Linked DNA regions of Homo sapiens. The protein of the gene in region 3 purifies or fractionates together with the protein of the main gene of each other region. This does not show direct contact. Each region holds a gene or a part of one and is shown on either strand. Other genes may lie near its edges. The genes, in order: TRAP1, SLC4A1AP and DNAJC8.

Region 1 (8,432 bases), on a different chromosome or scaffold from region 3:
GTTCCTCCCTCCCCTCCAGTGAAAACAGCCTTGGACACTCGGCCCAAATCGCTCCTCATCTGTGAAACTTACCCTGGGGCAAGCAGCTCTTGTTTCTCTAATGTGCTGTCCAGGCCACCAAGATGGCCCTGGTACACTGCTCAGCAGCCACCTATGACTCCAGACAGCAGGGTCACATTTTCTTTGACGACTCGGGGGCATTGGAAATGTATTTGCTGAATAAACTGTTATGGGCAAAAATGACAAATATAAAGTCCACAAGCGGATATCCTAGCCCACCCCTCACAGAAATATTCTGAGGGTAGGCCAGGCGCAGTGGCTCACGCCTGTAATCCCAGCATTTTGGGAGGCCAAGGCTAGTGGATCATGAGGTCAGGAGTTCGAGACCACCCTGGCCAGCATAGTGAAACCCCATCTCTATTAAAAATACAAAACCTAGCTGGGTGTGGTGGCATGCGCCTGTAGTCCCAGCTACGTGGGAGGCGAAGTCAGGAGAATCACTCGAACCCAGGAGGCGGAGGGTGTGGTGAGCTGAGGTTGCACCACTGCACTCCAGCCTGGGCAACAGAGCAAGACTCCGGCTCAAAAAAAATCAAATAAGATATTCTGAGGGCAAGTGACAGGGCTGGCAGTGTCAGGGGTCAGTGAGGTCTGAAAGGGTAAGAGGGCTGAGCTCATGGGTGACTGAGGCAGCGTAGCATGGGCGAGAGGATTCCACAGACATAAGACACGCACACCTGAAGCCAGGCACATGCTACAACCTGGAAATACTTTCCCAAGAAAAGAAAAAAATTTCAAGAGGTCTGGATTTTCTACATAGGTGGATCTGCCTAAACTATTCTTTCTCCCCTGTTGCACAAGACATGTATTTTCTTAGCTAAATTCTCTCATCGTTCAATCAATCCAAACAATTTACCTTCCCATTCATCCACACAGGTGACAATGACAAGGGCACCTGCCACGCAGAAGGCTGCCAAGAACATGTTCCATTTCTTAGACTCAGGCAGAGGAATGCTTGAACCACCGCACCAGAAGATGGAGGACGAGAGGAGAGAGACAATTTTTAAGAAAAAGAGATAAAGGGCTGGGCACAGCGGCTCACGCTTGTAATCCCAGCACTTTGGGAGGCCGAAGTGGGCGGATCACGAGGTCAGGAGATCGAGACCATCCTGGCTAACAGGGTGAAACCCCGTCTCTACTAAAAATACAAAAAATTAGCCAGGCATGGTGGTGGGCGCCTAAAGTCCCAGCTACTCGGGAGGCTGAGGCAGGAGAATGGCCTGAACCCGGGAGGCGGAGCTTGCAGTGAGCCAAGATCGCGCCACTGCACTCCAGCCTGGGTGACAGAGCAAGACTCCATCTCAAAAAAAAAGAAAAAGAAAAAGAGATAAAGAAACAGAATTAAAATGTCCCTGGGCTGAAAACTGACATATTTTCCAAATGGAAGGGACAGTGCATGATACAAAGCATGAATCACAAACACCTGTGGACGCGAGACCACAAACGACAAAGAGAAAAAATCTTAACCTCCAAGGGGGAAAAAACCCGAGTCAGCTACAAAAGAAACGAGAACCAAATTAACAGAACAGTTGGCCAGGCACGGTGACACACGCCTGCAATCCCAGCATTTTGGAGGGCAAGGCAGGCAGATCACTTGAGGTCAGGCACTGGAGACCAGCCTGGCCAACATAGTGAAACCCCACCTCATAAAGACAAAAAAATAAATAAATAATTGATCAGACACTGGTGCTAGAAGAGAGCAACAGCATCACTTTCTGAGGGAAAATTATTATTATTTTTGTTGTTGAGATGAAGTCTCACTCTGTCGCCCAGGCTGGAGTGCAGTGGTGCAATCTCAGCTCACTGCAATCTCTGCCTCCTGGGTTCAAGCGATTCTCCTGCCTCAGCCTCCCAAGAAGCTGGGATTACAGGCGCGCGCCACCACACCCAGCTAATTTTTGTATTTTTAGTAGAGACAGGGTTTCACCATGTTGGCCAGGCTGGTCTTGAACTCCTGATCTGCCCACCTCAGGCTCCCAAAGTGCTAGGATTACAGGCGTGAGCCACCGCGCCCGGCCACAAGGTATCTTTTATAGACCACTGGTTTTGAAAAGACATAAGATTCAGCGTTGAAGAAAATACCTTTGGAATAGGCAGTCTTGATGCCTGCTAAAGGGGATATAAATTGATAAGGCCTTTTTGGACAATTTGGCAGTATCTGCTAACATTTCAAAAATGCATAGGCTCTGAAATATCAATTCTAAAATTCTAATTATGTAAGGCTAAAGAAATACCGCACGTGAACAAATATTTAAGTACTCACCCATTCTATGCAGCATTGTAATAAAAAGTAAAACCTGAAATAACCTTTATTGCGTCCACTAATAGGACAATGTTTAAACAAATGACACGTCCATCATACAGAATACTGTGTGGTCACTGGAAGGCACATGGACCTGTATACACTGACATGAAAAGATGTGGAAAGAATGCTGGGAGCGTTAAAATTTTCTGAAGTACAACGTAGCACAATGCATACATGGTTTAGGCTTTTTAGAATAAAAAATACTTATACGCAGACATTTATATTTACACGTATAACACTGTGTACAGCCCCGAAGCAATGCCGAAACTTTCACTGTTGTTACCTCCGAGTGGGGACTGGGAAAGCAGAGGTTAGGGTCGTTCTCTCTGTTTTACAAACATTTATTGGCGCATCCATCAATTCCAGGCCCCGAGGACACAGCTGCGTCAACGACATCGAGTCCACCTGCTCTGGGGACCCGGATGACTGCTATAGGTTTTGTTCACTGTGGCGTCCCCAGAACCTGCACGGCGCCGGGCACTGAGCGGGCGCTCACATGTGCGTCCAATGAACGAATTAACAAATGAACCCTCAGTGCGCTACTGGGAGGCGGGGAGGGGTAAAGCACGATCCATGGAACTAGCACGATCACCCCGAGTGAGTCCATTCCCCGCAACATGCACCCGCAAAGACTCCGCGCTCCGCAGCGGCTCCACCTGCACGTGCGCTACCTGACTGGACCGAAGCTCCAGGAGGGACGACCCCGCAGCCGCTCCGCCCGACCCCGCGACCCCCCAAGACCCAGCCTCCTTCAGGGCTCCCATGGGCGGGTGGCGAGGGGAGTCCAGCCGAGGAAAAGGCAGCCAAGCTGGAGCTGGCGAGGAGCGGAGCGAAAGTAAACGCGTCTGCCGCGCTTGGCCTCGCCGGACCTCCCACGCCTGTGAAGCAGGTGCCGGCGCCTCGCTCCCCGGAGCACAGGGACGTCCCTGCCGTCTCCGTGGCCCGGCCCGCCCGCTGCCCGTCCAGCCAGGACGCCCTCACCTCCCGGCACGGCCGCCAGCGCCGGCGCCCGCAGCAAAGGCCGCAGGCGGCGGCCCCACAGCAGCAGCGCCCGCAGCTCGCGCGCCATGTCGTACTCCCAGAGCGCCGCGCGCAGCCACGCGGGACCGTACACGATGGGAAGGGGCGGGACGGGGCTGCGCGGGGCGGGGCTTCCTCGGGCGCGGGGCGGTGACGTCACGGCGGGCGCCGGGCTGTCCGGGCAGCTGCCTGCTCGGGCGCGTGGCGGGGTACTACCCGTCTCGTGGACGGTCGGGCCTGGGGGTGGGACCTCCGTGACCTTGGATCGCGTTGTCAAGGGCGACGGGCCTTGCGCGCGGAGGTGGGGGAGGTGGCCCCGCCGCCCCCGGCCCACGCTGGCCGGCTGCGCCTAGCTGTGCGCATTCCTGGAATGGGGCGGATGTCAGTATCCACGCGAGGGTGTGGAGGCGACGCTGGGGAAGAAGCAGTTCCCGTGTCTGCGACCTTTGTGAATCCCGGCCATCCGTCTAGGCCGCTGCAAGTCTCTTGCAAACCAAGACTGGACAAAAAGCTAAAGCGAATGAGGAAGGGGATTCCAGGCTTGACTGGCTACTACTCCAAAACCTGAACCCAGTGACCAATACCACCAGGAAAACTGCGGTTATTCGTTTATTCCACTTCTCTTGTCCTTGTCGAGAAGAGTCAAACTCTAAAGTATTTAGAAGGTTATTCTGAGCCAAATATGAGTGTGCATGGAGGGAGGCACAGTCTCAAAAGGTCCTGAGAACTTGGCCCAAGGTGCTTGGGTTACAGCTTGCTTGGTTTTATACATTTTAGAGAGACATAAGACATCAGTCAATGCATGTAAGACATAGGTTGGTTCCGTGTGGAAAGGCAGGACAACTCAAAGGGTGAAATACTTAGAGGTCATAGGTGGATTCAGATACTTTCTGATTGGCAATTGGTTAAAAGAGTTGAGTTCTGGTTGGGCGCGGTGGCTCACGCCTGTAATCCTAGCACTTTGGGAGGCTGAGGTGGGCGGACTGCCTGCGGTCAGGAGTCCGAGACCAGCCTGGCCAACATGGTGAAAACCCATCATCTCTACTAAGATACAAAAAATTAGCTGGGCAAGGTGGCACGTGCCTGTAGTCCCAGCTCCTGGGGAGGCTGAGGCGGAAGAATAGCGTGAACCCGGGAGGCTGCGGTTGCAGTGAGCCGAGATCGTGCCACTTGCACTGCAGCCTGGGCGACAGAGCTGTGACTCCGTCTCAAAAAAAAAAAAAAAAGAAAACAAAAAAAAGAAAAAAAAGAGTTGAGTTATACAGACCTGGAATCAATAAAAAGAGTGTCTGGGTGAAGATAAGGGGTTGTGGGCACGAGCACGGTGACTCACACCTGTAATCCCAACACTTTGGGATGCCGAGGTGGGCGAATTGCTTGAGGTCAGGAGTTGGAGAGCAGCGTGGGCAACATGGTGAGACCCTGTCTGTACCAAACATACCTGTACCGGATGTGGTGGCGGAGGCCTGTAATCCCAGCTACAAGGGAGGCTGAGGTGGGTGGATTGCTTAAGCCCAGGAGGGAGAGGTTGCAGTGAGCCAAGTTCGTGCCATTGAACTCCAGCTTGGGCAAGAGAGCCACACCCTGTCTCAAAACAAACAAACAAACAAACAAACAAAAAACAGGTTGTGAAGACCAAGGTTCTTATTATGTAGAGGAAGTCTCATAGATGACCACCCTTACAGGTAATAGATGGCAAATGTTTTCGCAAATATTGTTTATTCAGACCGTTAAAAATTCCTAGACCCTCAGGATCAGGAAAAGACCTGCAAAGGTGGCCTGGCATGGTGGCTTACGCATGTAATTCCAGCACTTTAGGAGGCCAAGGTGGTCTTATCACTTGAGGTCAGGAGGTTGAGACCAGCCTGGTCGGCATGGCAAAACCCCATCTCTACTAAAAATACAAAAATTAGGCCAAGAGCAGTGGCTCACGCCTGTAATCCTAGCACTTTGGGAGGCTGAGGCGGGCAGATCACCTGAGGTCGGGAGTTCGAGACCAGCGTGACTGACAGGGAGAAACTCCGTCTCTACTAAAAATACAAAAAATCAGTCAGGCGTGGTGGCGCATGCCTGTAATCCCAGCTACGCAGGAGGTTAAGGCAGGAGAATCGCTGGAACCCAGGAGGTGAAGGTTGCAGTGAGCTGATACCGCACCATTGCACTCCAGCCTGGGCAACAAGAGTGAAAGTCTGTCTCAAAAACAAAAAAAATTACCTGGGTGTGGTGGTGTGCACCTGTGTACAGCTGAGGCTACTCGGGAGGCTGAAGCAGGGGAATCGCTTGAACCCAGGAGGCAGAGATTGCAGTGAGCCAAGATCGCACCACTGCACTCCCACTCCAGCCTGGGCAACAGAACAAGATTCCGTCTCAAAAAAAAAAAAAAGTCCTTTGTAATGTTAACGCTGGTCAGTTGTGCCTCATTTCCAAGGGGTGGAGGGTGTAATGAGGCAGGACCCACCCCATCCTTCCAATTATGGCCTGAACTAGTTTTTTAGGTTTCTTTGAAATCCCCTTGGTGGAGAGGAATGATCCATTCCATGGGTTGGGGGACTTATAATGTGTTTTTGCCGGCTGGGCACGGTGGCTCACGCCTGTAATCCCAGTACTTTGGGAGGCCGAGGCAGGCGGATCACCTGATGTTGGGAGTTCAAGACCAGCCTGACCAACATGGAGAAACCCTGTCTCCACTAAAAATACAAAATTAGCCGGGCATGGCGGCACATGCCTATAATCCCAGCTACTCGGGAGGCTGAGGCAGGAGAATCGCTTGAACCCGGGAGGCAGAGGTTGCAGTGAGCTGAGATCGTGCCACTGCACTCCAGCCTGGGCAACAGAGTGAGACTCTATCTCAAAAAACAACAGCAAAAAAAGAATTTGTTTTTGCTTTACACCTTGCTGGAGGTTAGAGACTAGTTGGAGATTCAGACCATACACCCTGGTCTAACATTTGGTCCAGACCCAGCTGCAGCCTCATAATGCCGATTTCCCGGCACCTCCTCAGTCCCGGAGTGGGGCCCAGGCGGCTCCACTGAGGTTCCCAGGTAATTCGGAGGCACACTGAAGATTCACTGCCACACTCTAATAACTGTACAAAAATAGCGACTCCAGCTCGTGGCACGTGCTGCAGAGAAGCACAGGAGCCAGGAGAGTGACCTTCAGTGGGGCCGGGACAGAGCTGGGTGGAAGAGGATGTGTCAGGAAACGCTTCCAGGTGGAAAGTGGCAAGTTCCCAGCTTAAGCAATTGAGAAGGGAATGGAAAGAGGGTGGGCAGATTTGGGTGGAAGAGCAGGGTCCTGTCACCCAGACCACTCCAGCAGCCCTGACAGGCCCCCTGCTTCCGCTCTTGCCAGCCTCCCATCCTCCACAGCAGCCGGATCATACTCCGTCTCTCAGATCCTCCAGTGGTCCCCCTACCAACACACATGCACATATTTACAATCCTTTCCAAACTCCTTCTGCCTCCTCCTATAGGCCTGCATGGGCCTGCCTGTGTTCCCTATCACCACACTCCAGGCAGAGCCCTTTCCAGCATGTCCTCAGGGAATGGGGGTGGGTGGGGGGTGTCTCGGCTTCACATTTCATCCCTTTTTCGCTCCATTCAGGAAATCATCTCTCTCTTTTTTTTTTTTTTTTTTTTTTTGAGACAGAGTCTTGCTCTGTTGCCCAGGCTGGAGTGCAGTGGTGTGATCTCGGCTCACTGCAAGCTCTGCCTCCCGGGTTCACTCCATTCTCCTGCCTTAGCCTCCCGAGTAGCTGGGACTACAGGCGCCCACCACCACACCCGGCTAATTTCTTTTTGAATTTTTAGTAGAGACGGGGTTTCACCATGTTAGCCAGAATGGTCTCGATCTCCTGACCTCGTGATCCGCCCATCTCTGCCTCCCAAAGTGCTGGGATTACAGGCGTGAGCCACCGCACCCGGCCAATCCTCTGTTTTGTAACAGCTGTCACATTGGTCCATGGGGCAATATATCTGGCTTAGGCCTTTTATTTCTTTTTTTGTTTTGTTTTGTTTTTTGTTGTTTGAGACAGAGTTTCGTGCTTGTTGCCCAGGCTTAAGTGCAGTGGTGTGATCTCGGCTCACTGCAACCTCTGCCTCCCATGTTCAAGTGATTCTCCTGCCTCAGCCTCCTGAGTAGCTGGGATTGTAGGCACCCGCCACCATGCCTGGCCGATTTTTGTATTTTTAGTAGAGACGGGGTTTCACCATGTTGGCCAGGCTGGTCTCGAACACCTGACCTCAAGTGATCCGCCTGCCTCGGCCTCCCAAAATGCTGGGATTACAGGCTTAAGCCACCACACCAGGCCAGTTTCAACAAGGGGAAGTGATATTTGGCAAAAGGAGGGAAACCTGGGCTTTAGTTAAGGGTGGGGGGCCTCTGCCAAGACTGGCAGGCCCCAAGTTCTGTGGAGGGCAAATCTACCAAGTTCCAGAAAAACCCCCAGAGCCTTCTGTCCTGTTGGCCTGTAGCCTTCAGAGACAAACCCTCAGCCTCAGAGCCTTGTGGTCCTGGGGCCTCTGCTAGCCCAGGGCCCTGTGACTTTTTTTTATTTTTTTATTTTTGAGACGGAGTCTCACTCTGTCACCCAGGCTGGAGTTCAGTGGCGCAGTCTTGGCTCACTGCAACCTCCGCCTCCCGGGTTCAAGTGATTCTCCTGCCTCAGCCTCCCAAGTAGCTGGGACTACAGGCACGTGCCACTATGCCCAGCTAATTTTTTTGTATTTTTGGTAGAGATAGTGTTTCACCCTGTTAGCCAGGATGGTCTCGATCTCCTGACCTCGTGATCCGCCTGCCTTGGCCTCCCAAAGTGCTGGGATTACAGGCGTGAGCCCCTGCGCCCGGCTGGACCTGTGGCTTTGTAAGGTACTGAGGGATCCAAGGCATGTCCTAAGGTGGCCACACATGGACTTCAGGCTCCGCGTAAACCAAGAATCTAGAAAGAGGAAAAAATGTTTACACGCAGACGTACTTGACTTGAATTAGTGGAGAATGACTGGGAGCTGCTTGGGGAGGGAAAGGGAAGAACCCCCAAGTCTCCTGCCCA
Region 2 (7,605 bases), on a different chromosome or scaffold from region 3:
ATAAGTGAAAAGAGGAGGAAGAAGATACACATCTAGACCAGTATCCAAAATAGGAAAGGGAGGAAAAACCAGGCAAGCACACAGACTGATAGCAGGAGAGGAGGCTCTGGAGGAAGCTGAGACATATTTCGTTTTCGTTTTTTTTTTTTTTTAATTCTTCTTGCCCCAAATGTTGTTGTTGTTGTTGTTGTTGTTGTTGTTGTTTTCCAAAGCAGAGATTTGTTTTTGTTTTGTTTTTGTTTGTTTGTTTGTTTGAGACAGGGTCTTGCAACCTCACTCTCCCAGGTTCAAGTGATACCTCAGCCTCCCAAGTAGCAGGGATTACAGACAAGCACCACCATACCCAGCTAAGTTTTTATCTTTTGTAGAGACAGGGTCTCACTATGTTGCCCAGGCTGGTCTCAAACTCCTGAACTCAAGCCATCCTCCCACCTCACTCACTCTCCTAAAGTTCTGGGACTACAGGTGTGAGCCACCGTCCCCAGCCACTTTTATTAACAAATAGTTTTACTGTAACAAAATTATTATATGATTCTTACTTTTTCCAGTTATTTGTTATTTAGAACTAGAACTGCAACTACATTACAGTAAATTTGGACCTAAAGTGGTATGGCTATTTGGTACAGGATTTTCTTTTCAAATTCAGTATATCTGAATAGAATAGAAAGTATATTCACATGTTCAAAACTCAAGTATAAAGCACATATACTGTGAAAAGTCTCCCTCCCATTGCTGTCCCCCAGCCACCCAGTTGCCTTCCCCATTGGCAATCAATATTATTAATTTTTAACGAATCTTTCCAGAGATACAGTAGCAGATGCTGTCCCTCCCAGATTCCCTTTATCAGGCCAAACAGCTACTGCAGACATCGGCTGCTAAAGGCTCACACCTGCACCCTTCCCAGAATTGCTGTGAGCCCCTCCCACCCCCCAGTCACCGGCAGCCTATGACCAATGAAGGGTTGGGGGGACAGGGTATCGAAACCCAAGCCCCATGCCTCCATGGCATCTGTGGTGCCATTCAGGCTCTCCTGAAACCATATCTTAGCCCAGCTTCTTCTCCTGCCCTCTCCTGCTTCCCTCACTCCCATATAGATTTCTCCTGAGAGCACTCTCTTAATAAATCACTTGCAGATGAATCTCCGATTCAGTCTGTTTTTAGGGAACCCGACCTAAACAGATATTATAAACATAACCATGGCCTACTTATCTATGTATTCTTCCCCCACCATCATTTTTTACAGACAGCGCCTGTTATACACACCGTTCTGCACCTTGCTTTTGTTACTTATCTTGATAGTGTTTCTGTATCTTATATATAGTTGCCTTTTTTTTCAACAGCTATATGGTGTTCTATTGTATATCTACACCATAATTTATTTATTTTTTTGAGATGGAGTCTCGCTCTGTCGCCCAGGCTAGAGTGCAGTGGCGCAATCTCGGCTCACTGCCAGCTCCACCTTCCTGGTTCACGCCATTCTCCTGCCTCAGGCTCCCAAGTAGCTGGGACTACAGGCACCCACCACCACAACCGGCTAATTTTTTGTATTTTTAGTAGAGACAGGGTTTCACCATGTTAGCCAGGATGGTCTCGATCTCCTGACCTCGTGATCCGCCCAGCTCAGCCTCCCAAAGTGCTGGGATTACAGGCGTAAGCCGCAGCACCTGGCCGCAATTTATTTAATCCATCCCCTTTGATAAACATTTAGGGGATTTCTAATTTTTTACTACTATTAATACAAACAATGCTGTACATCATTTCCTAAGTATGTGAGGGACAAATTCCTAGAAATGAAATAGATCAAAGGGCATGTGCATTTGTAATCAGGATAGAGACTGCCAATTTGTCTTGTAGAGAATGTACTAATTTGTCCTTCAATGACAATATAAGAAAGTGCCTTTTTGTCAGCCTCATCAGCACAGTATAAAATCATAATTAATCTTCATCAAATTCATATATAAAAATGCTATTAAGACCAGGTGTGGTGGCTCACACCTGTAATCCCAGCACTTTGGGAGGCTGAGGTGGGCAGATACCTTGAGGCCAGGAGTTCAAGACCAGCTTGGGCAACATGGCAAGACCCCATCTCTACAAAAAATTAAAAATTAGCCAGGTATGGTGGAGCATGCGTGTGGTCCCAGCTACTTGGGAGGCTGAGGCAGGAGGATCACTTGATCCCAGGAGGTCAAGGCTGCAGTGAGCTGTCACTGTGCCACTGCACTCCAGCCTGGGTGACACAGTGAGACCCTATCTCAAAAAAAAAAAAAAAAGGTATTAGGTTGTAGTATTTGTATTTCTCTTATGATCATGAAGTTGAGCATCTTTGTATAAAAGATGCTATTTGTATTTCTTTTCCTGTGGCCTGTGAGTAGACATCCTTTACTCATTTTTCTCCTGGGTGGTTGGCTGTCTACTTATCATTCAGAGGTCTTTTTATTAATAATTTAATTTTTTTTTTGAGACAGGAACTTCCTCTGTCACCCATGCTGGAGTGCAATGGCACGATCACAGCTCACTGTAGCCTGGAACTCCTGGGCTCAAGCGATCCTCCTACCTCGGCTTCCCAAGTAGCTGGGACCACAGGTGTGCTCCAACATGGCTGGCTGATGTTTTTATTTTTTGTAGAGATAGGGTTGTGCCATATCACCCAGGCTGGTCTTGAAAGTGATCTGCCTGCTTCAACCTCCCAAAGTTCTAGGATTACAGGTATGAGCCACTACGCCCAGCCTCAGAGGTCTTTTTATATTAGATAAATTAGCTTTTTGTGCATGATGCTTTTTAAAGGAGTTTATTCTACACTAAAAGATTAAGTAAAAAAAACTTCGGAACCTTCCAATGAATCAGAAATCAATATAGTTTTCTCAGAAAATCCTCTATCAGTCTATATTTCACAAATATGAAACAGGTTTTTAGTTACTCTATGAAACCACTGCTTTCTGTGCTTTAAAGGGTTCCTTGCATTACATTTGTATTATATAATGATTATTTAAGAAGATAAAGCGATAATTGAAAATGTTATCTATGCTACCATACTTATTTAGAATTCCAAATATAACTAAGACTTACTTTTTTAGTTCTGGAATCTCTGCTGGCTTTACAATTTTTATTAACCCTTTAAGTCTCTGTTGTTCTTTCCTCAGTTCAAAAGTTCTCAGGTGAAGTTTCTTCCGGGACACACCATCTAATGTACTGCCTGATTTCATTTCTGACATGAACGCATCTAAAGAATCCTGAGATGGAGACTCTGATAGAACTGTCCAAGAAAAGAATAACACATGTTTAGAAAGATGATCCTGAATATTTTAAAATTCAGCCAAAGTTTCCATATAAAAGTCACTAACATAAAACCGGACAGAGGACATCACTAGTAATAGGAATAAGGAACAGGTTATAGCCATGAGACCTTGGGAAGTCATTTTGTCTCAATGTGCTTCATTCCCCTCAACAATTAAATAAAGAGGTTAAACCAAATGATTTATAATGTTCTTTCTAGTTCTAAAACGGTATGTTGCTCCTTTAAAAGGCTCCATATTCTGTATGGTATTTCTTATTAACTAATGTAGCCCCAGTGCCTAGCATAGAGCACTATATGTGGTATATTAATAAATATTTGATGAAAAACTTACCTTGGCTTGAGGCTTTCAATCTCTCAGAAATTTCAGAAAGTTCCCTTTCAGCATCATTTAATTTTGCAACCTGTAACACCCAAATCAACAGGGTTACAAAGTTTTTCTTCTTTCAAACTGTTTTTCATCCTCCTGTTTTAATTATTCTTACTAGAAGTTTTAAGAAGATTAATTCAAAAGTCCAGTTAAACTGCTACTTATGGAGTTAACACTTTTTTTTTTGTTTTGAGATAGAGCCTCATTCTGTTGCCAGGGTAGAGTGCAGTGGTGCAATCTCGGCTCTCTGCCACCTCCGACTCCCGGGTTCAAGCGATTCTCCTGCCTCAGCCTCCCAAGTAGCTGGGACTACAGGTGTGCACCACCACACCCAGCTACTTTTTGTATTTTTAGTAGAGACAGGGTTTCACCATGTTGGCCAGGATGGTCTCAATCTCCTGACCTCATGATCAGCCTGCCTCAGCCTCTCAAAGTGCTAGGATTACAGGTGTGAGCCACCACACCTGGCCAGAGTTAATAGTTTTTTTTTTTTTTTTTTGAGATGGAGTCTCGCACTGTCACCCAGGCTGCAGTGCAATGGCGTGATCTCGACTCACTGCAACCTCTGCTTCCTGCATTCAAGCAATTCTCCTGTCTCAGCCTCCAGAGTAGCTAGGACTACAGGCACACACCACCACGCCTGTCTAATTTTTGTATTTTTTTTTTTTTAGTAGAGGTGGGGTTTCACCACATTGGTCAGGTGGGTCTCGAACTCCTGACCTCAGGTGATCCACCGGCCTCAGCCTCCCAATGTGCTGGGATTACAGGCATGAGCCACCATGCCCAGCCAGGAGTTAACACTTTTTATGTGTTAAATCCAAATTTAATTTATTTCTGAATTAAAAAACACAGAATTAAACAGAATGAATAACTCGGACTTCATTTTACTCAGAAGAAAGAGCTCAAGGCATTTGTTTTCACATAAATCAAAAGGATAGATGTTGGGTAATGTTTTAAGCTCTGAATCCTACTATAAATTAATACCTGTAACAAATTCCTTGAAGTGCAATTGCTGAATCAATGCATTTTTAATACTGACAGATGTCGTAGGATTGATCACTTAAAAGGTTGTATTGTACATTCCCACCAATTGAGAGTCTACTTCTCCATATTCTGGTCAAGCTCTGCATTATTAATCTTATGTTTTTTTCTAGTCTAATAGGTAGCCTATTACCTGCCTATTATTGTCTGTTACCTACCCATTAACACGTCACCTTGTGATAATTTCCTGAAGAACATACTGTTTCAGACTACATATTACCATACTACATTCTTCAAAATTCCTTTGACTTCTCTTGACTGCCAGAAGGCTAAAGTCAATTTCACCTCAGAACGCCCTAACTTGGAACTTTTTCCTTTCCTTTTGAGAGAGGTAATATCATATCCAAAGAATGTTAATTAATGGATCAATATCCTGAAGGAAAGGATCTAGCAGCAAGCCATATTTTTTTCAAACAACTTGGATAAGACTAGTTGTCTGTTACCATTAAATTAACAGACCACAAAAGTTATACTTCAGTATCAGATTTCAATGCTACTACTTTAAAAATTATCATAAAACATATTTAAATAATACATTATGTTATTAAAAATTAAACTATTAAATACCACAGCTACTTCCATAAATAAAACTTGCCAATGATTCAAAGGTCTCTGGCTTCTCATCAATCTTGCCAGCCTTCTTCATTCTGTTCAGACGCTTCTTCTCAATCAGGCCAGTCCTATCAAGAAATGTGTCATCATCACTATCATAAAAGTCTTCATCTTCCCAGTTCTTGGCTTTCCTTTTCCGAGATACTAGAGGTAGATAAAATGATGAATAAATAAGTTTTTAAAAAAGAAAAGAAAAAGAAAGAAGGCAAGTAGGCAAGGAGCTTAAAATGTCACCATCAACTACTGAAAGAGAGGTTCTACAAGCTGCCAAACTACGTATAAAAACAAAGGGCTAAACCTTGAAGACATTATACTAAGTGAAATAAGCCATATATAAAAGGACACTTACTGCATCATGTGAGATACCTAAAGTAGTCAAATTCATAGAGACAGAAAAGTAGAATGGTGGTTGCCAGAGGCTGGGAAGGAGGGAGAATGAAGTTAGTGTTTAACAGATACCAATTTCAGTATGGAATGATAAAAAAGTTCCAAAATGAACAGTGTTGATGGTTCCATAATATTGTGAATGTACTTAATGCCACTGAGTGATACTCTTAAAATGCTTAAAATGGTACACTTTTCTGTTATGTATATTTTCCCACAATTTCTTATTAAATAATTTTTCATTAAAGCAAATAGTTAATTTATTTAATGAGCAAACGGCTTTTAAAAATCAATGAGGATGGCCAGGCATGGTAATCCCAGCACTTTGGGAGGCTGAAGGGGGATGGATCGCCTGAGGTCAAGACCAGCCTCACCAACATGGTGAAACCCCGTCTCTACTAAAAATACAAAAATTAGATGGGCATAGTGGCGGGTGCCTGTAATCCCAGCTACTCAGGAGGCTAAGGCAGGAGAATTGCTTGAACCTGGGAGATAGAGGTTGCAGTGAGCCGAGAAAGCGCCACTGCACTCCAGCCTGGGTGACAAGAGTGAAACTCTATCTCAAAAAAAAAAAAAAATCAATGAGGAAAAAAGGAAAATGAAAAATGAGAAAAAGGACAATAACCCAAAAGAAAATTTGAAAAAGGATAATGAAAGCAGTTCACAGAAAAATACAATAAATATTTTTAAATATGTTACTTTAAAAAAAAATAAAGTACAAATTTAAAAATTAGATACTTCTCATCTATTAGACTAGAAAAACATAAAAAGATTAATAATTGGTGGGAATGTACATTGATACAACCTTTTTGATGGTCAAGCCTACAATATCTGCCATTAAAAATGCATTGATCCAGCAATTCCACTTCTAGGAATTTATTCTATAAATATCAATGCAATAGTATTTATAACAGTGAATATGTAAAGAGTCCATCAATAAGAAACTATGACAGCTATTACTTTTTTGTTCACCCTACAACATTCTACTCCCTTTGTTCTGATAAAAGTACCTCTTTCCCCTAGAAAATTCCTCCCCCATTTTATCTGGTTTAGGGATAGTCATAGGACCAAAGCCAAATCAGTAAGACTCTTTCCCTCATATTTATATTTAGAGATGGGGCAAAGAGGCTCTCTTTACAATGAGGTTATTAAAGTGAGAGACTGTTAAGTTCAGGGCTGTAAGCAATCAGCTTTTCAGCACAGGGTAAGAATCTGTCTGCAAAGTTTAAAAATGCACTCGTGAGACAGACTCACTCACAGACACACACACACACACACACACACACACACACACACACACAACTTGTATATGTCCTGGTGATGCTGAGTCTACTTTGGTAGTACTAAGTTATGGTTTCAGAACTTGAGGTTCTGGTTCATGCAGTTGTTCCTTCACTCCTGTTCCTTCATCCTGAGCTATTCTTCCCAGCTTCTGCAGCCAATGACCTTTCCCCTAAGCTAGTTTGAATTGGACTTCTATTATTTGCAAGGAAAATAGTCCTTATTAATATAAGCCTAATTTGCAGGTTAAGATGGTACATTAAACACACATATCTAATTTCCCTCTTTCCCTAAATCCCAATAAACCATAGTAAAGAGATGTACCCACGCCTGGGCAACATAGCAAGACCTTGCCTTTACTAAAAATAAATCTAAAAAAAGTAGCTGGGCATGGTGGTGTGCACCTGTAGTCCCAGCTACTTAGGAGGCTGAGGCGGGAGGATCGCTTGAGCCCCGGAAGTTGATGCTGCAGTGAGCTGTGATCAGACCACTGCACTCCAATCTGGGCAGCATAGAGGAAAGAGAAGGAAGGAAGGGAGGAAGGAAAGAAGGAAGGAAGGAAGGAAGGGAGGGAGGGAGGGAGGGAGGGAGGGAGGGAGGGAGGGAGGGAAAGTAAGGGAAAGGA
Region 3 (7,605 bases):
TGAGGTTGGGAGTTCGAGACCAGCCTGACCAATATGGAGAAACCCCATCTCTACTAAAAATATAAAAAGTTAGCCGGGCATGGTGGCGCATGCCTGTTAATCCCAGCTACTCGGGAGGCTGAGGCAGGAGAATCACTTGAACCTGGGAGGCGGAGGTCGCAGTGAGCCAAGATCACGCCATCGCACTCCAGCCTGAGCAACAAGGGCAAAACTCCGTCTCAAAAAAAAAGTAGAATAGAGCTTTCTTCCCACTCCCAAGGGCCCAAGAAAGTGTCATAGCACCCCTAGAACGCAGGATGAGCTGCAGGTTGCAAGAGGAGGACGAAATCAGTAATAATCATCACAACACTGAGGCCCCATTTGTTGGGGACCTCGAGGCTAGACGTTTAACATGGTTTTTTTTGTTGTCATTGTTGTTGTCTTTTGTGAGATGCAGTCTCGCTCTGTTGCCCAGGCTGGAGTGCAGTGGTGCGATCTCGGCTCACTACAACCTCTGCCTCCCGGGTTCACATCATTCTCCTGCCTCAGCCTCCTGAATAGCTGGGACTAAAGGGGCCCGCCACCACGCCCGGCTAATTTTTTGTATTTTTAGTAGAGACGGGGTTTCACCGTGTTAGCCAGGATGGTTTCGATCTCCTGACCTCATGATCCGCCTGCCGTGGCCTCCCAAAGTGCTGGGATTACAGGCATGAGCCACCTCACCCGGCCTTTTTTTTTCTTTTTTTTTTTTTTTTTGAGACGGCTCTGTCACCCAGGCTGGAGTGCAGTGGCACAATCTTGGCTCACTGCAAGCTCCACCTCCTGGGTTCACACCGTTCTCCTGCCTCAGCCTCCTGAGTAGCTGAGACTACAGGTGCCAGCCACCACACCTGGCTAATTTTTTGTATTTTTTTAGTAGAGACAGGGTTTCACCATGTTAGCCAGGATGGTCTCAATCTCCTGACCTCATGATCTGCCCGCCTTGGCCTCCCAAAGTGCTGGGATTACAGGCTTGAGCCACCACGCCCGGCCAGCATATGGTATTTCTAATTGTCACCAAAAGCCGACTATGGTGTGTACTGCTACCAGTGCTTCACAAATAACACTGAGGCTCAAAAAGGTTAAATGATTTTCTAAAAGCCATACAGCTAGCTAGCAGTACAGCTACTCTTTCCACTGCACCTTTCTGCTGCCCCCCAAAACTTGGATGGCTGCTCCAAAGCCAGTACAATGCCTAGCGAGTTGTGTAGGGGTGGCCACTAGGACCTCTACCTCATTATCATTTTTTCTCTTTCCATACATGAAGTGCAACAGAAACAAAGTCATCAACTCTGATTAGCCAGCCCCTAACCATGAGTCCTAAACCCTATAGAAGAAAAGACCGAATGTTGCCACAATCCTTCTGTCCAACCACCTGAAGCATATAACCAGGGTGTCAAAGAAGAGTCAAGTTCAAAGGTTCTAACTCTCTCTGCAGGTAGGACACTGTGGGCACAAGAACTTCAGCATCTACTAACAGATCTCTAAGCAGCACAATACTCTATGCTTACCCCCTAAATTAAAAGTGCAATCCATTTTTCTTGAGCCCACTGGGCAGCTGTGCCTACTACAATCTAAAAAACCATTCAGGGTGAAACTGTTAGTGTGCTGTAAAAAGAAATTAAACAATAATTTTTAAAAATAAATTTTAAAAAAGCCATTCAGGGATCCTCATCGTCCTTGCCAAGGCTACAGAGCTTACAGGAGGCTGAGGCAGGCCCAGCCTCATTCTTCACCTCTCCCACTCTTCCCCACATATCCCACTCCCCTCTGACTGCCCCACTCAGTCCTGGGAGCGCCACAGGAACCAAGCTGCCTTATTCTGGAATTAGAATCCCTGGCCACCTTGGAAATTTACCTCAAAGTTTTTCTGCCACTCTCTTTCCCGTTTGGCTTTTTCTTGAGCTTCAATCTCTTCTTCCCTTTGTCGTTTCCTAGGAGGAAAACCAGATCATAGTATTTATATGATACTTACAGACTGAATTAACCATACAAGGTGGCATCTCCCCACAGAAGCAAGCATATATAGTAAATCAATTCCCTAGAAGTCTACAAAGATGGCTGTCTGGAAAGGGCTCATAGCATTTTCATGAATGTCTCATTCTAAAACACGCAGATCAGACTTGGGCATGGCTGTGGGGAAAGACATAAATATCCTTGTTACACAGATAAAGTAACTAAAGCCCAGCCAAGAGCAATCTGAGGTTTTGGGCTCTTTCAGTGACAAAGCTATGTCGAGAACACAGGCCACCTTATTTCAGCAGAATGACCATTATAAAGCCAAAGTTCTTAAGATCTCTGGACAAAACCCTATCCGAAAACAAAGATATTTCACACAACCTCAACTAGCAAATTTTAGTTACTGGTACCTACCAAGCAACAATATAAAATACATACAGAAACAAAACTCGGCCGGATGTAGCGGCTCATGCCTGTAACGCCAGCACTTTGGGAGGCTGGGGCAGGTGGATCATGTGAGGTCAGGAGTTCGAGACCAGCCTGACCAACATGGTGAAACCCCGTCTCTACTAAAAATGCAAAAATTAGCCAGGCAGGAGAATCACCTGAACCTGGGGAGGTGGAGGTTGCAGTGAGCCAAGATCATGCCATTGCACTCCAGCCTGGGCAACAAAAGCGAAATTCTAACATTTCTGATGTTCAAGAGAAATCATATTTTAGAACATTAAACATTTTGTTACTGATGACACTACAGTACTATACACTCACCAAAGCTGTAGCCACTAGCCCCACAAAAGGTTCTGGCTTCAGTAACAATGGCCTTAATAACTGCTTATTTCACTCCAGGACATCAGGAAGAACACACACAAGGCTCTTGATTATAAATAAACTCCCTGGCAGCATGCAGTGGCTCATGCCTGTAATCCTAACACTTTGGGAGGGCAAGGCAGGCAGATCACGAGGTCAGGAGATCGAGACCATCCTGGCCAACATGGTGAAACCCTGTCTCTACTAAAATACAAAAAATTAGCCGGGCATGGTGGTGTACACCTGTAGTCCCAGCTACTCAGGAGGCTGAGGCAGGGGAACTGCTAGAACCTGGGAGGTGGAGGTTGCAGTGAGCCAAGATCGCACCACTGCATTCCAGCCTGGCTACAGAGCAAGACTGTGTCTCAAAAAAATAAATAAAAAATACACTCCCTAAGGACAGACCTATTCAATAATTCTCAAAAGTCAAAGAAAAAAACTACTTACCCTGGTGATTCAAAAGCTTGACTGTTTTTAGGTAACTATTTTTATAGTCTCTTAAATGGTATACTATATAATTCCCTCATTAGGAAAATCACCAAAGACCAATGTTAGTTAATCTAGGTATTTAAATATGGTTTAAATGAATATACTGATATGTACCTTTCATGCATCTCTTTGGCTTCTCTCTCTTTCCTTTTAATTTCCAGCTCTGCAAAGAGTTTCATTGTCTGTTTATATACAGCTTGTTTGAACTACAGGAAAATCAAGAACAAAAGAAAATCAGAGTAAATATTTTTACCAGCAACTTGAACCATGTACTTTCACCTGGAGTCCAAGATAAAGCAGATTAAAACCTGGCACAGGCTGTGCACCGTGGCTCACATCTGTAATTCCAACACTTTGGAAGGCCAAAGGCAGGAGAATCGTTTGAGGCTAAGAGCTTGACTGCCCTGGCAACATAGTGAAACTCTATTGCTACAAAAAAATTTTTTTTAAAACTAGCGTGCAGGCCAGGCGCAGTAGCTCACACCTGTAATCCCAGCACTTTGGAAGGCCAAGGTGGGCAGATCACCTGAGGCCAGGAGTTCAAGACCAGCCTGGCCAACATGGTGAAACTCTGTCTCTATCAAAAATACAAAAATTAGCCAAGCATGTTGGTGCGTGACTGTAATCCCAGCTACTCGGGAGGCTGAGGCAGGAGAATCACTTGAACCCAGGAGACAGAGGTTGCAGGGAGCTGAGATCATGCCATTGCACCCCAGCCTGGGCAACAAGAGGGAAACTCCGTCTCAAAAACAAAAATTAGCGGGGCATGGTGGTGCACACCTGTAGATCCAGCGTTTCAAGAGGCTAAGACAGCAGGATCACTTAAGCCCTGGAGTTTGAGACCACCCTGAGCAACATAGTGAGATCCCATCTCTACAAAAAATATTAAAAATAAAACATTAACCAGGTGTGGTGGCGCACACTTGTAGTCCCAGCTACTCAGAAGGCTGAGGTGGGAGGATCGCTTGAGCTCAGGAGGTCAAGGCTGCAGTGAGCCATGACTATGCCACTGCACTCCAGCCTGGACAACAGAGCAAGACTCTATCTCTTTTTTAAAAAAGTATATTATATGATAGTCTTACAATGATAGGAACAGAAGCTATTATTATTTATTATTATTGTTTTTGAAACAGGGTCTCAATCTGTCACCCAGGCTAGAGTGCAGTGGTGTGATCATAGCTCACTGCAGCCTCAACTCCTAAGCTGAAAAGATCCTCCTACTTCAGCCCCCAAAGCACTTGGATTATAGGTATGAGCCACCAGAGGTTATTATTAGAATGTATAATATCCACTAAGGTGGGAGGATCACTTGAGCCTAGGAGGTCAAGGCTGCAGTGAGTTAAGATCATGCCACTATATTCCAGCCGGGGTGACAAAGGGAGACCCTATCTCTAAAAAGAATTACAAAAAAATAAGTGAACGTAAGTGACCCAGCCCCTGTCACACTAAGTTAATGAAATCACAATGCCCTCCCTACCAGTTTTTAATTCTTTATTTTCAAGAGTTCTTAAGAACACAGCTTATGTTATTCTACCTTTAAATATTTTTCTCCAGATATAAAGTATTTTAAATAGACATGGAAGTACAAAAGTAATCTGTCATGCATATTTAATAGTGCCTAAATTCTAAAATCAGACACTGGAGCAAAGAGTGATATATGGAGAGAAAGGAAAATAAAGAAGTCCCTAAATCTCTGTGACTTCTCTTTTATCCTGTTACCTGCTAGACACTGCTCACTAAAAGCAATGCTTCAACCCCAGTCCCTAATAAAGACAAACATCAAAGGGATAAAGGAGTCTGTAATGAATAGCTCAGTATATTTAAAAGCTCCATACACGGGATAGACAGACACTGCGATTTTATATTTTTTATATTTCTCTTTTTCCAAATTTTCTATCATTAGCATGTGTTCTTTTATAATCAGGAAAAAAAAAAACAACTGAAAAAAATTGGGCCAGGTGCGGTGGTCCACGCCTGTAATCCCAGCACTTTGGGAGGCCGAGGAGGGCAGATCACTTGAGGTCAGGAGTTTGAGATCAGCCTGACCAACATGATGACATCCCGTCTCTATTAAAAATACAAAAATTAGCCAGGCTTGATGGCGGGCATCTGTAATCCCAGCTACTCAGGAGGCTAAGGCAGGAGAATCACTTGAACCTGGGAGGCAGAGGTTGCAGTGAGCTGAGATCGCACCACTGCTCTCTAGCCTGGGCAACAGAGTAAGACCCCGTCTCAAACAAATACATAAATAAATGTATATTTATATGTTTTAAGTTCAAATAAAATGTTTGTTGTTGTTGTTGTTGTTGTTGTTGTTTTAAGACAGAGTCTTGCTATGTCACCAGGCGGAGGTGCAGTGGCGCGATCTTGGCTCACTGCAATCTCTGCCTCCCAGGTTCAAGCAATTCTCCTGCCTCAGCCTCTCGGGTAGTTGGGATTACAGGCACGTGCCACCACGCCCAGATAATTTCTGTATTTTTAGTAGAGACGGGGTTTCACCATGTTGGCCCGGATGGTCTCGAACTCCTGATCTCATGATCCACCCGCCACGGCCTCCCAAATTTCTGGGATTACAGGCGTGAGCCACTGCGCCCAGCCAAATAAAATGTTTTTTTAAAAAATAAAAATTAGGCCGCGCACGGTGGCTCATGCCTGTAATCCCAACACTTTGGGAGGCCGAGGCGGGTGGATCACCTGAGGTCAGAAGTTCAAGACCAGCCTAGCCAACATGATGAAACCCCGTCTCTACTAAAAATACAAAAAAATTAGCCAGAGGCCGGGCAGGGTGGCTCATGCCTGTAGCCTGCAATCCCAGGACTTTGGGAGGCCAAGGCAGGCGGATCATCTGAGGTCAGGAGTTCGAGACCAGACTGACAAACATGGAGAAACCCCATCTCTACTAAAAATACAAAATTAACCGGGCATGGTGGTACATGCTGGTAATCCCAGCTACTTGGGAGGCTGAGGCAGAAGAATCGTTTGAACCCAGGAGGCAGAGGTTGCAGTGAGCCGAGATCGCGCCATTGCCCTCCAGCCTGGGCAACAAGAGTGAAACTCAGTCTCAAAAATAATAAATAAATAAATAAATAAATGTGAAATAGCATATATTCATCATTCTTTTGGCTTCTGTCTCTGTAACCCACCAATTCGTAGACACAATCACACAAGATACAGTGGCTTTTCCTATATTTAACTCACCAGCTCAGGATCATCCTCCTCTACAATTGTAGGTTTTCCTTCCTTCTTTAATTGTTTTTTTCGCTCTTTCACCTAAAAAGAATTTTTTTTCATCAAAAGACGAGCATCTGTGCTTTGAGAATATCCACTGGGCTGTACACATACAATATATTTAACTTTCTATAGGCACGGGTATAGCAAAAAGTTTTCATTAAAAAAAAAAAGAGCCCCTCCCCTCCCTCCTCAAAAGAACAACAGAATCAAGGAAAATTAGGAACCACAAGTCCTTTTTCTAATCTCATCTAAAATCCAATCTACCAGGAAGAATGAAAGATGAAAGGGGACCAACGGGAGGTTGTCCCCAACTCATCAGATCCAAAAAGTCTTTGAAACAGACTACTTATTTACCTTTCTTGGCTTGTGGTTATGTGTTTAGAGCAAAGCAAATATATCTGTCAAGTTTTAGAAGAAGCTACAGAATCTGTGGCATTATGTCCAAGTAGTTTTTCTGGCATTTCTATAACTGCATTCTTGATCACTTTCACCATGGAACCTCCTTAAACCACATATCATATTAACTGATACTTTTATCACATTGGCCACTACTGAGATAAAAAATAAATAAATAAATATACGAATTCATACAAGAATGACACTACTCCATGAACTAACCAGTCTATTATACCAGCAAAGGCCAAGTACCCTCTAAGCTCAGAAAGGCCCTACTGCCACCCTGTGGTCAGGAAGCCTAAGGATGACTTTCTTACAGGTGAAAGACATACGAAGCCACAATGATTTAAGGAGAAACTGTCAGGCACTTTCCCTATTTCTACCAGGATAGGGCCTACAAGTGCCATTTCCAACACATGACCCGCAGGATATAGTTATGGGCCCTTTGTCTCCTCTTCTTATCCATTTTCCTCACCGAAACTGGATTCATTATTATGGTTATAAAGTTGTCTCAGATTTCAAAGCTCTTCATGTGAAAAGTCATCCAATCACAATTGAAGCAGCTCTTACAAATGACCTCAAGATTCTTGCCCCAGCAAGTAAAAAGTTAAAAGACCTTTCTTACCTTGGGAAAGCCATACTGACATTTCCCACCACATTGGAGACTTATGTATGCCCTCAAGAGCAAACAAAAATAACACCAGC

Evidence for each region.
Region 1: the proteins of DNAJC8 (region 3) and TRAP1 purify together in Homo sapiens (affinity purification with mass spectrometry; 2 studies listed by BioGRID, with this or other methods). This does not show direct contact.
Region 2: the proteins of DNAJC8 (region 3) and SLC4A1AP purify together in Homo sapiens (affinity purification with mass spectrometry; 2 studies listed by BioGRID and IntAct, with this or other methods). This does not show direct contact.

The regions. Positions count from the first base shown.
Region 1 is NC_000016.10:3,714,075-3,722,506, forward strand, and holds the start of TRAP1 (heat shock protein 75 kDa, mitochondrial isoform 1 precursor), read right to left. Parts: upstream 3,451-8,432; 5' UTR 3,435-3,450; coding exon 3,347-3,434; intron 1-3,346.
Region 2 is NC_000002.12:27,673,386-27,680,990, reverse strand, and holds part of SLC4A1AP (kanadaptin), read right to left. Parts: intron 5,460-7,605; coding exon 5,299-5,459; intron 3,697-5,298; coding exon 3,627-3,696; intron 3,254-3,626; coding exon 3,067-3,253; intron 1-3,066.
Region 3 is NC_000001.11:28,201,871-28,209,475, forward strand, and holds part of DNAJC8 (dnaJ homolog subfamily C member 8), read right to left. Parts: intron 6,544-7,605; coding exon 6,472-6,543; intron 3,480-6,471; coding exon 3,388-3,479; intron 1,953-3,387; coding exon 1,877-1,952; intron 1-1,876. UniProt on the Homo sapiens protein: Suppresses polyglutamine (polyQ) aggregation of ATXN3 in neuronal cells.